2 separate regions of the Homo sapiens genome follow, and region 2 is linked to region 1. The links come from fine-mapping of genetic effects on gene expression. Tissue or cell type: whole blood. Region 1 holds a variant in brackets; the other region holds the start of a gene. All regions are shown on one strand. Distances are between the middles of the regions.

What was found. PIP is the estimated chance that this variant, and not a neighbour inherited with it, causes the effect.
Region 2: it holds the start of RTP4, and the variant in region 1 is fine-mapped to the expression of RTP4 in whole blood (INTERVAL, PIP 0.96).

What each region holds. Positions count from the first base shown.
Region 1 is chr3:187,545,157-187,553,259 of GRCh38, forward strand. No RefSeq gene overlaps it. Among named protein-coding and RNA genes, the nearest start is that of LINC02041, 100 kb to the left of the region's middle. The variant G/A (reference allele first, on the strand shown) is at 4,132.
Region 2 is chr3:187,365,298-187,370,297 of GRCh38, forward strand. RTP4 (receptor transporter protein 4) reads left to right here and starts at 3,088. Exons shown (of 2, transcript NM_022147.3): 1 at 3,088-3,299. The coding sequence starts at 3,145. RefSeq lists an enhancer at 2,949-3,298.

The DNA of each region.
Region 1 (8,103 bases):
AAATGAAGAACTAGACTAAGTTATACCACCTCAAACATCCTAACACTATTTAAATATCTTAATAAAACTAAAAACAATTATTCAGAATAAGACTCCCTCCTCTGATTTATCCTTACCATCAACTACTCTGAAAAGTGAAACTGTTATTTTCCATTAATAAATTGGTATAACTTTAGTTAGTCTTCCCATACTAATCTGTTCACTGGTCCTGGAGCGTGTACTTTTCTTCTCTACTACTTGGCCTTTATTCTTACTTGTGTTCCTTCCCCTGGTGGGGCTATGGCATTCTGTTCAACTTCAGTGAACTTGAAGTTTCACTCTAGTGTCACCTTTGTTTTCCTAGCCAAAAACAATCTTCCTTTTTTTTTTTATTAAAAAGTTTGAGAGAGTCTCGCTCTGTCGCCCAGACTCGAGTAAGTGATTTGATCATTGCCCACTGCAGCCTCAAATTCCAGGTCTCAAGAGATCCCCTGTCCTCAGCCTGCGAAGTAGCTGGGATTACTAATGCATGCTACTGTGCCTGGCTAATTATTTTTATTTTCAGTTTTTGTAGAGACAGTGTCACACTATGTTGCCCAGGTTGATCTTGAACTCCTGGTCTCAAGTGATCCTCCTACATTGGCCTCCCACAGTGCTGGGATTCCAGGTGTGAGCCACTGAGTTTGGCCTTCCCTTCGTAAGATCCACATCACTTTCTCATGTTATCCCTTCTTATCCTGTGTTGTAATTATTCGTGTGAAGTCCCCTATCCTAAAATAGCTTGAAGTCTCTCTGAAGGCAGATAAAACATGAGTCCAGCTAAAGATCTCCTCACATGCATACCTTGTCTTGCACCAGCAGATGCTCAGCAAACAAATGAATAAAAGGATCAATAAATAGGCTTGATGAATTAAATTTTTTATCAGATTGCCTGTTGGTTTTGGCATTGCATAGGCACTCCCCAAGCTGTTTAAATTTCCTTTATTTACCAAATACTTGCTACTGTTTGTGAGAATAGTGGAAATAAGACAATTTTCCCCAACAGAACATTAACATTCAAGCAGAGGTTAAATGGCTCCTTTGGGAGTGGAGAATCTAGGAAGTCTAACGTGTAGTGACAACACTCAAAGAGAAACCCTTCTTGGATTCTGTATGTCAAACAGTTCCACGACTTGTTCAAGTTTAACTGTGGGACTTTTGAAGCCATTGTGACTATTTTGCTTCTGTTGGGTGACTGGAAAGACAGTATCTGCTACCTGGGAAGGGTTAATTGTGTTCTTATATTTTCAACTCTACTTTTTAAAAAGGTGTGGCTGCATTTTTCTCTTCTCTTTTCTCCCCATTGTCTCCCCTACTCTTCCTCACTCTTTTTCTATCTCCCCCTCTCTAGTTCCTTCCCTGATTCCTTCTCTTCAGTCTTTCATTTTCTTCCTCTGTATCTCCTTCTTGCCTCTCCCACTGCACCCTTTCCTTCCTTTGCTTCCCCTACACCTTCTCCCTCTCATGTGATTTATGTTAAAATGTACGACATCAAAGAGTTACCTACATGAATCTGAACCCTGGGTTTAGATCTACCTAAGGTAGGTGGCATAAATACCTGAGAGGTGGGGAGGAGAGAAGCAGCTCTAGAAAATGCTTTCATTCAGAAGGTGTGGCACAGAAATCATGGTGGCATGTGGCATGGTGGCAAGTGACAAGAGGCATCCACGCAAAAGCTGGCATCCAGGGGACCTAACAAGAGATCATGGGCTGCCCCAAGGTTGCCTGAAACATTGTGATGGGATACTAACCTGAATACAAAGCATGACTGCAGATCTGGAAGGAATTGGATTCAAGAAGGAATTTGTAAGTGGGTAGCAGAACCTAAGCCATCTTTCTAGGGTTTACTATAAACCTAGAGGCAGGTTGAGGATTAACAAGAGCAAGCAGTGCTTTGAGCCTTGCAGGCCTGCTTCCTAGAAAAAGTATTCTGGCAGAGCATCTTACTGGTTATAAGGGAATAGGGCCCAAGAAGAGAAAGTTTCCCAAGAGGAAATATGTAAAAGGGCTTAGTTATAGGAAGAAAGGAAAAATCTGATTCCCAAAACTGAAGCAGTCCATGGGCAGAGCAAGATGAACCTGAGCTACTGACCTAAGCTTCCTTAAAATAACCCCAAATGAAACATGGTTGGTTCTGGAAACTGGAATTGGGGGTAGCCTCCAAATAAGGGTCCAGTAGCTCTGGGTCATTTCATCGTCAACTGGAAATAGATGCAGCAGTCTCAGTGGTCATGACTCTAACATCAGATCAGCCTGAGCTCAAGTACCAAGTACAGCTCTTACAAGATGAGAGAGACCTTGGGAAAGTAACATAACCTCTCTTTGCCTCAGTTTTCTCATCTGTAAAGTGGGGGGAAACAGTACCAATGTCATGGGGCTATCATGAGAATTAAATGAATCCTTATTAATAAAAGGTTTAGAATAAGGGCTGGGCGCGGTGGCTCACACCTGTAATCCCAGCACTTTGGGAGGCTAAGGTGGGCAGATCACAAGTTCAGGAGTTTGAGGACCAGCCTGACCAACATGGTGAAACCCCGTCTCTACTAAAAATACAAAAATTAGCGTGCGTGGTGGCACGCACCTGTAATCCCAGCTACTCAGGAGCTGAGGCAGGAGAATTGCTTGAACCTGGGAGGCAGAGATTGCAGTGAGCCGAGATCTTGCCACTGCACTCCAGCCTGGGTGACAGAGCAAGACTCCACCTCAAAAAAAAAAAAAAAAAGCTAACTTTTCTCCAGAGTCATGTATTTTCAACAAAAGGGGTTTAAAGTTTTTCTATTTTCCCAAATCAAGTGAATTTCAGCTCAATAAAATCATTCATTTTTCAGGGAAACTGATTCACTTTTCATTTACTGAGTATAGACCACCTGAATTGGGTCCCAAACTAACTCCTCATAATAAAAACTGAACATGGGAGTTGCTCTGCTGTGTGGCAAACACACCATCATTCTTGTAATTGCCTTCACTTGAAAACTCAGCCACATATTTATCTCCCCTTTCTCTAACCCCAGTATCTCAGAAAGTCATATAGCATCATGGTTAAGAGAGCAGACTCAGGAACCAGACATAACTGGGCTTAAATGTTAACTTTATCCCCTTTTTAAAGCTTGGTAGAGCTGCCTATCTTTTCTTTCTGAGCTTCAGTTTTCTCATTTGCAAGTAAGTGAGGATAGTAATACCCATGTCATAGAGTTATTGTGAGGATTGGATGTGATTTTGCATGGAAAGGGCTTAGCAAAGTACCTACTTATGGAAATGTTTAATGCATTTCAGTCAAAAATCATGTATCATAATCCAGTTGAATCCATTTTTCAAATGTCTCCTAACTTTGTCCCTTCTGCTCCATCCTTCCAATACTATTGTGTATCTCTGTCGGGAGTATATGTGTGTATCTTCCTTACAAGACGGTAAACTCCTTGTGTGTATATACAGTTTGGTTTATCTTCACTTCCCATTCCATTTTATCTTGAATGCTGCTGGGCTTACAACAGTATTCAACAAACATTGATTGAAAAGACATTCTGCAGAACCTGATTGTCCCCTCTGTTCCTTGATTGCAGAACTTGGTACAATTGGTAGAAGTATTAAGACTAAAAACTTCAAGGGTCTTGAGTGCTGTAATAATGCCTTGTGGTCATTTGATGCTTAGAAAACAGCTTGGTAACTTAGAGTCAATTTAAACCATCCACACAAGAACCTCAAGCTAATATTCAGCCTATTATGTGGGAGTCTAAATGGCCTTTCTATAGAAAAATCTGACTAGCTTCTGCATTGGAGACTGAATGGCATGCTTCTTAGACAATAGACAACAATGGTTGTCTGTGGGGGACAGAAGAGGGTAAGGGTCTGGGAGCTGGAAAGAAACTGATGAAGCCACAAAAGAAAGCTCTGAACTTCACATTTATTAATGCATGTCTTTGTGTCATTACTTATCAGCAATATTTGTATTTTTAAACACAGTACCAATTAAGACTGGCAGTTAGTGGACAACTGATGTAAAGCACCAGATGTGGTTCCCCTATGTCTCATTGATCTTGCTATTTGATCCCTTTTTTCCAGTGTTGCAAGTAATTTGGCAACATTATTGACAATGTAAACTGATCAAACTTCTAT[G/A]ACAGACATCTTGGGAAGGGAAGAAAATGATAGGGCATTGTGGTTCAAACTGATACTTTTCTAAAAAAGATAACAGTTTTTAGTGACCAGGAATGTGCAGTCTATGAAACAAGCCATTACTGCCTATGAGGCAGGGTTCGTGACAGCACTATATGTAGAAATAAAGGAGGCATCTTGTATAGATGGCTTTATTCATGAAAACATAAAAGAATGTTCTGTTAAAAATCAATGTACTTTTTAGATTTCCAGTGCTCAAAATTCTACTATTATAGTCAATCCTTATAGTCTTTCTTACCAGAAACTAACCAACTAATCAGCAACTTGGTAGGGTTTTTGAAAACAAAATGAAGTCCTTTGTTACTTGGGAAAGAACAGAAAGGAGGAGGTATGAGAAAGGGGTTATAGATGTTAGAAGATGGTGAAAGATGGGGTGATTTCAGTTTAGGGTCAACAGCCTCCAGTCAGTGAATGGGAGATGAAGGTGGGAAGTCAAGTCTGTTAATTCAGCCATCACCAAAACTGACTGATGGATCCTGCCTATTGTCCGCTGGCTTCATGTGCGTTTTCATCCTTTACTTCTAAGAAGACTGTAAAATATTTTCCATATTGCTCTTCTCCAGTATTCTACACTTCTGCTTCCTCTACTTCAGCTTCAGCTATTCTTTTAATGTTCAGTCTCATCATGCCAATCTTCCTTCTGCTTTACAATCTTTCATGGGACCTCATTTTACCCTAAAATTAACTCTCCATTCTTTAAACTGGCCTGTCCTCTCCCCGAAGCCTCATCCTTCCAGTGTTCTCTCCACTACCCGCTGTATATAAAAGAATGCCATGTTCTTCCAAAGTTCTCTGTCTTGGCTAATGCTCCTCTCTCCATTAGAAATTTTCTTCCTTGCCTTTTCTGCTAGGTGGCCTCCCAGGCATCCTTCAAGGCTCAGGTTAAAGTCGACCTTTCAATAATGCTTTGTTGGACTCACCTAGCCAGAATTAATCACTCCTGACCCTGTGACTCGGTAGAACCTAGTGTATACTCTATGACTCTCTCATTGAATGAATGATGATTGCCTGGCTCTTCATTAATATTAGCTTGTGAGGGCAGTGACTGTGTGTTGTGGGGGCAATGTTATGTTTTTCAGGAGGTCGTTTTATTTCTCTTCTGGGCACAAAGAAAGGCTATATTTCCCAATTGCAATATGTCTAGTTGTGGCTTTGAAGCAAACTTTGGCAAAAGTGATATATACCACTTCCAACTGGCTGCTAACAGATAATGCATAATCTCTATTGTTTTTCTCTTGCCAACCACTCAGCCTTTTTGAGGATTTCAATAAACAATTGGATAGAAAGATCTTGAGTCTGAGTCACCGCCTGTAGGAAAGCTACTCTGCTAGCACATCAGCACAAGATTTCTCAAGAGAAAAATGAACTGTCACTGTCTTAGACACTAGAGTTGGGGATATTATTATAGCAATTAGCCTTACTTACTCTAATATGGTATCTCATTTCCCTTTATGATGCTTTTTTTCTCATTGTGATTTCCAGTCAACCACTCCTCCTTGTCTACCTATGTCAGTTCTGACTTTACTTTTCTCCCATCTAGCATGGATCCTTTGGTCAATCATTTAATGACATTATTGCCATCACCCTAGAATCTTTTTCTGATGTTTTATTTTATTAGCACAAGTTGTTTTTATAACAATAATAGCAGTAGTCATTGTTGCAGCCCATTAGGAGCACGTAATACTTTGCAGATTATGTATCTTGGCATTTATTGTCTAAGTTTGATTTTGGCCTCTCATGGTTTCCATCTTACCTCAAAGTGCTTCCTGCCTGCTATCTCCACTCCTGAATCCAAGCTGATACCACTAGAGAAGTCACAGAGATCTGACTTTTGGCTTCAATACAAATTAAGGGTATTTCTTCATTGCCATTGAGCAAACATCTTAGTCATCTCTTGTACTCCTTGTTTAAATCTTCACGACTTTTTAAATCAAACTTTTTCTACTCCCCTTAGAACTCCACCCATTTCCAATGTTAAACCCTCCCCTGTGTACCTGATATGAGAAACGCAGAATACAGGATTACTAAACTGTTGTGTACAGTAGCCATCAATTGTACCAAGCTTGTATGAGGCAGGCACATAGCAGTCAAATAAGCAAAAGGCCAGCTATATGGATTTTTTTGTGATCATTCTTCCCAAAGAATTTTCTTCATATTTCTAGTCCAACAAACTATTCTGGATGAAAAACATTTTCTGGAGTCAAATAAGTGTGGAAACTACTTCACATAATATCCTCATTATTAATCTGCTCCCTTAACTGCAAACATCTTATGACCATTGGTTGTGGCCAGCAAAGAATGTGTTTTGCTAGTTTAAAGATGAGGTCATTTTTAAAATGGTGTCACCCTGGCTTTCCTAGGCTCCTGCTTCCCTAGGAGAATGAAAATGTTAACTCCATGCCTCTCCAGCACTCCATTTTGGAAGCATATAACTTGTTTCCTAGTCCATAGATCCATAGATGTACAGGAATTTTACCCAAAGATGGGTCATATCCAGAGTCTCACCTATACCTCACTTAGATGGCATTTGGGACCATTTGAGTTGATGACATATGAGATTTTGCCCTTGGGTTGATGCTGGAATGGGTTAAGCCTTTTAGGACTGTTGGATGAAGCGAATTCCTAGTCTTTCTGCAAATGGCTTTGTATCACCAAGAATTCCTTCAATAAAGGAAGCTATGTCACTTTACCATCTCAGCACTTCCCGAAAGTTTTGTTTACAAAACTTTTATATAATATACTTGTGAAGATTTAATGGAAGAATTCAGTCTAATTCTGCTTTCATCTGTGTAAAGTTATCTTTCTCTGGAGATAGGCAAACAATATTTTCTCCTTTGCTGATGTCAGACCAGGGCTAAGATACACAGGAAGATTGCAGGTACAGTAACTTACCCCAGGGGGAGGAAAAGGGTATTTACCAAACTTGTATGCCTCTTTTTCATTTAATAGTGATCCCAAGAAAAATGTTAGTATTCTTTCTTTTACACATAAGGAACCATATATAGGTAGTAAGAATACGATTCAGGATTCCAAAATCCATGATCTTTTCATGTCTTGACTCAGCTGGCATTGAGCTGGGAGTACAGAGATGGGTGCATGTCACTATGAGAGTGTTTAGACTCCTTCTAGCTTAATGGTGGATGGTTCTTAATTTCATTATGTAAGAATTGACAGTCTCCAGAACCATAAATGTCACCTTAATAATAACTATTGGAGCCTATTAAGTCTAGAAATTTACTTTTTCATAGTTACCACAAGAATGGGATGCAGAAGAATATGACTGTTACTCAATGGCAATATGAAAATCAATAACCCATTACCTCTGTCAGGCATATCCCCAGACTGCGCCACCTTTGTGAAGGAAAGACTGATGAGTTACCACTTGAGTATGAGTCAGAACCTACATAGATTTACTGAAAGTATAACAAGTTAGATATGCCCATGGATGCTGGGCCAGGTGGCAAATGATGATAAGTTCTGGATCTTTTTGCCTTCAAGGATATCTTTTATTCTTCTCACATGGGCTCTTACTTTGCTACCAAACTGTTAGTTAAGTACTAATTATGTTCCCCACTTGTATTTATCAGTAGCGTGTAGAACTGCCAATCAGAACTTGGGGTCAGCATCTGCCTAGTCGGTATAATTGCATCAATTTGATACAACTCTAATCAAAACGAAAGAAACTTTTGATACTTCAGATGGCTTTTGCCTCCTTATTACAGGTAAATACATAGCTCCTTTAAACATGTATAAAATAGTTTGGGGTTATAGTGAGAGTGGATTGAAGGATATTTTTAAAAACATTTTCTTCATATATTTTGCATAGTCTCACTGGTGTGATTATCTTACATTATTTGTGTAATCAGAAGAATTAATAAAGTAGAAAATAATTTTAAAACACAATTGCCTGAGAAC
Region 2 (5,000 bases), 180 kb before region 1:
CCCCCATGCAAAGGACCAGGCTGACCTGAACAATTGGGTATATCAAAGGGCACACATGAAGAAGAGGCAGAAGGAAATCATGAAGGCATGCAATGCGCCGGATCAAGCTACCTTTTGGGAAAAACAGAGCATTTGAGGTGTCAGGGGTAAGGGGACTCTCTGAAGGTACACTCTGAAGATACAGAATAAGTAGAGTGGACTTGGGATCCTAAACCCAGCGGAAAGTGAAGAGAAAGGGTAGAGAAATGATTTATGCATGGGTGGAGCAAGAGAGCAGAACTTGAAGCCAGGCCCTGTATTGGCACTAATTTGCTGTGTGACCTTAGGCAAGAGACCTTATTCCTCTGGGTCTCAGTTTTCTTTTCTCTTTTTTTTTTTTTTTTTTTTGAGACGGAGTTATGCTCTTGTCACTCAGGCTGGAGCGCAATGGCATGACCTCGGCTAACTGCAACCTCTGCCTCCTGGGTTCAGGCAATTCCCCTGCCCTGGCCTCCCAAGTAGCTGGGATTACAGGCATGCGCCATCATGCCTGGCTGACTTTGTAATTTTTAAAGTAGAGATGGGGTTTCATCATGTTGGTCAGGTGGTCTCAAACTCCTGACCTCAAGTGATCTACCCTCCTTGGCCTCCCGAAGTGCTGAGATCACAGGCGTGAGCCACGGTGCCCAGCCTCAGTTTTCTCGTGTATAAAAATTAAAGGGAAAAGGGATAAGTTGATTTCTAAGGGTTTTCCCAACTCTAACATCCTGTGGATCCAATTACAAGTTCTTAGAGCTTCCTATATCATGTGTATAGACACAGGTATCCAGGAAGGGAAGGAAAGAGAGAGGGTGTCTCTGAGTCGCTGACAGGGCACATGGAAGCCTAGAAAACCCAGGAAGACTGAGGCTGATCCTGTCTCAGACACAGAAGCTGTAGCGGGTGTTCTAAAGACCTAAGTAAGCATCCTGCTTGTCCTATCTCCCCTATTTGAATTTAAGCCCCAGGAGGACAAAGCTTACTCTCTGGAATCTCCGCGTTTTAGACTTACAAGTGTCTTTAAAGGTCATCTCATCTCAATCCCTTACCCCAAAATGGGAATTCTCTGTATCCTACCACTGAAAGACGGCCCCCACACCTGTGCGTATTTGCCCTTCCACATAATTTACAGAGTGGAGGGCAGAGTTTGATAATCCCTTCATGCAGCTGACCTCCTGCCTCAGGACCCAGGAAATCTCCCTACGGTTCCTCTGACACTGGCTCCAGTGTGCCAGCCTGGAACCTGAAATGCCATTCTCAGCTTCTCTTCAGGGAGTGAGGTGGGCGGACACATGGCAGGTTTTGGAGTCACACAGACCCGGGTTCAAGTCTCACTTCCACTGCTCGTTAACTGAGGGGATTTGGACAAAGTACCCCAGCTTTCTGTGCAGTTAACCTGCAAAACTCCAAGAATAATCCTTCGCGGGACTGGTGAGGATACATGGGGTGTAGGAGATGAGCATTAAACACGTGCTCCCCTACGCTGCTCCTAACCTCCCTGTCTCCACCTGGGTGTGAGCATCTGTGGGGGCAGGAATTGTTTCTTAGCTACAGGATACTCTTTTCCCAGTGCCAAAAACAGTGCTTTTGTGTCCGGAATTGGTGGGTTCTTGGTCTCACTGACTTCAAAAATGAAGCCACCGACCCTCATGGTGAGTGTTACAGCTCATAAAGGCACAGTGCCCAGAGTTTGTTCCTTCTGATGTTCGGATGTGTTCTGAGTTTCTTCCTTCTGGTGGGTTTATTGTCTTGCTGGCTCAAGAGTGAAGCTGCAGACCTTCCGGGTGAGTGTTAACAGCTGATAAAGGCAGAGCAGACCCAAACACTGCGCAGCAGCAAGATTCATTGCAAAAACCAAAAGAACAAATCTTCCACCACGTGGAAGGGGACCCGAGCCGGTTGTCAGTGCTGGCTGGGGCAGCCTGCTTTTATTCTCTTATCTGGCCCCACCCACATCCTGCAGATTGGTCCATTTTACAGAGAGCCAATTGGTCTGTTTTACAGAGAGCTGATTGGTCCGTTTTGACAGGGTGCTGATTGGTGCATCCACAAACCCTGAGCTAGACACAGGGTGCTGATTGGTGCATTTACAAACCTTGAGCTAGATACAGAGTGCCCATTGGTGTATTCACAATCCCTTAGCTAGACATAAAGGTTCTCCAAGTCCCCACTAGACTCAGGAGCCCAGCTGGCTTCACCCAGTGGATCCCGCCCCGGGGGCAGCAGGTGGAGCTGCCTGCCAGTCCTGCGTGTGTGCCCGCACTTCTCTGCCCTTGGGCGGTCGATGGGACCAGGCACCATGGAGCAGGGGGTGGCACTCGTCGGGGAGGCTTGGGCCATGCAGGAGCCCAGGGTGGGGAGACTCAGGCATGGCGGGCTGCAGGTCCCGAGCCCTGCCCCACAGAGAGGCAGCTAAGGCCCAGCGAGAAATCGAGCTCAGTGCCGGTGGGCCGGCACTGCTGGGGGACCTGGCGCACCCTCCGCAGCTGCTGGCCCAGGTGCTAAGCACTTCACTGCCCAGGGCTGGGGGCCTGCCGGCCGCTCCGAGTGCAGGGCCCGCCAAGCCCACGCCCACCCAGAACTCTAGCTGGCCTGCAAGCCCTGCATGCAGCCCCGGTTCCTGCCCGTGCCTCTCCCTCCACATCTCCCAGCAGGCTGAGGGAGCCGGTTCTGGCTTTGGCCTACCCAGGAAGGGGCTCCCACAGTGCAGTGGCTGGCTGAAGGGCTCCTCCAGCGCGGCCAGAGTGGGCACCGAGGCCGAGGAGGCTCCGAGAGCGAGCGAGGGCTGCGAGGGCTACCAGCATGCTGTCACCTCTCACTTTGCCTATTATAAAAAATGAGAGAGAGAAAATAAAAGCGAATTTATATGTGACCCCAGAATCTAGAACAGAGCTCTTTATCTCTCTCTCAGCAAGGCCTATTAACTAACACAGTTTTGCTGCTGTCTGTTTTCAGAACAAAGACTTGTTCTGTGTACTCAGACAGTCTAAAATGAAGGTTGAAAAAAACAGCTCATGTCCATACACAGAAACAGAAACTGAACCGAACACCGAAACTGAAACTGTTTGTCTCTTCCTGAGAAACGAGCAAACCTGAAAGCTACTCTCTCAGCTTCAGAGGGAAAAAATGGTTGTAGATTTCTGGACTTGGGAGCAGACATTTCAAGAACTAATCCAAGAGGCAAAACCCCGGGCCACATGGACGCTGAAGTTGGATGGCAACCTTCAGCTAGACTGCCTGGCTCAAGGGTGGAAGCAATACCAACAGAGAGCATTTGGCTGGTGAGTGTGGGTTTCCCAGGCAATAGCTCTTCTGAGAAGAGAGGCTCAGGCTCAGCTTAGCATGATTTATTCCTCTGAGAGCTTGTTGAAGGAGTAAATGTCACCAGGGCCTCCATCCTATTGTGGTCATAGTACTCTTTAGGGTCGACATGATAAGACGACTCCAAACCTCCATTTTGTTTAACTGCTGGAAGTTTCTTCTTTTACTAGGTTTCCCTCCGTAAATATTTCTGGAAAACCCTGGAGAAGGCTCCCTATTCCATAAATTTTCCCTTCTAGTTTCTCACCACGTCATTTGTTCCAGACTACCTCTAGAGTCTTTTGCAGTCTCCCCAGCAGTCCTGACCAGCTTCCCCCAGCTGCACCAGCTCTCCAAGCCTTGGCACTGTTCAGTACAAGCCTGGGACGGAGCCTTTTTTTTTTTTTTAAATATCTTAAGAATTGGCTAAGATCAAGCAGTTACTCTGAACATTGCTTTACTGAAGGCCTGGGGATAATAGTATAGAATGATGTTGCAAAAACTAAATCTAAAACCCAGTTCATGGAGTCACCAAGTAATACTCCTCCCTTACTCACCACTTCCCTCTTTAACCCCCAGCAAGCCTCCAGGTTGCAGGAACCAGTTTCCTTGACCATGTTAGGAGGGTGAGAATTGCTGACCTGGATAATCAAATTTATTTTTAAATGACACACAGGACCTTCGGTATAGTTTTCATCTGACCTATTACTCAGCTTGCCTGCCTGCCCCATCCTGCCTCAGGTATGGCCTACTCCATTCCTTATGGACTATTAGCTATGCCATGCATCTTCAGACTTCCACACTCTTGTTCATGGAGTTCTGCTTGTTCAGCAGACCCTCCCCTCACCCCTCCCTGCTCATCCTTCAAGGCCCACTCTAGTGCCTCCTCCTCCTAAAAGCATTCTCTGGTTCTCCTAGGCAGAGTAAGTATTCCTTCGTATACATTCCCATAAGATAATGGGATAAGATAAAATATATATGTATATGTATACATAAATGATATATAATTATATATACATATGTACTATGTATTTCAGAATAATAAATTTATAAATAATATATGTATTATTATATATTGTATCAAATACAGTATATGCTTATTTTTAGCTGCAGAATCTGTTGTTTAAATAAAGCCTCCTAAACGTCTCCAGAACAGTTCTCAAGTCACTTGTCAGAGCCCGTATAGCAGTCATGTTGCTCTGCTTTCTAATCCAGGGAAATGTGTAAATATTTCTGTCCACACCAGCCAGAGCTTTTTGAGGGACTCATGATGTCTTACAACGTTTTGGCACTCCTCCAAACAGAAAGAAGGTGTTTCTCCTGTTGGGATGATTTGATTTGATTGTCATTTCGAGATCGGAAAAGCAACCTACCAGTGTACTTTTGGAAAATATCAATCAGCTTTTGAAAAGCATTTTGTAGTTTACAAAGTGTTTTCACATACATCGTCTCTTTTGATGCTGCCAATATAACCCTTGAATTTTTTTTTTATGGATTCAAACAATGAGGGTTATAGAAGGGAAGGGCTTTGCCCAAGGTCTTCCTGATGTAAACTGGATCTTCAACCCAGGTATGAGGGATGCAGTCTGTTTCTCCAGGTGTGAGAGATTAGCTACACTACTCACCAGAGGCAACGTGTTACAGCAGGTAAATGAGTTGAATTTCAGATGGCCTGAGATTAG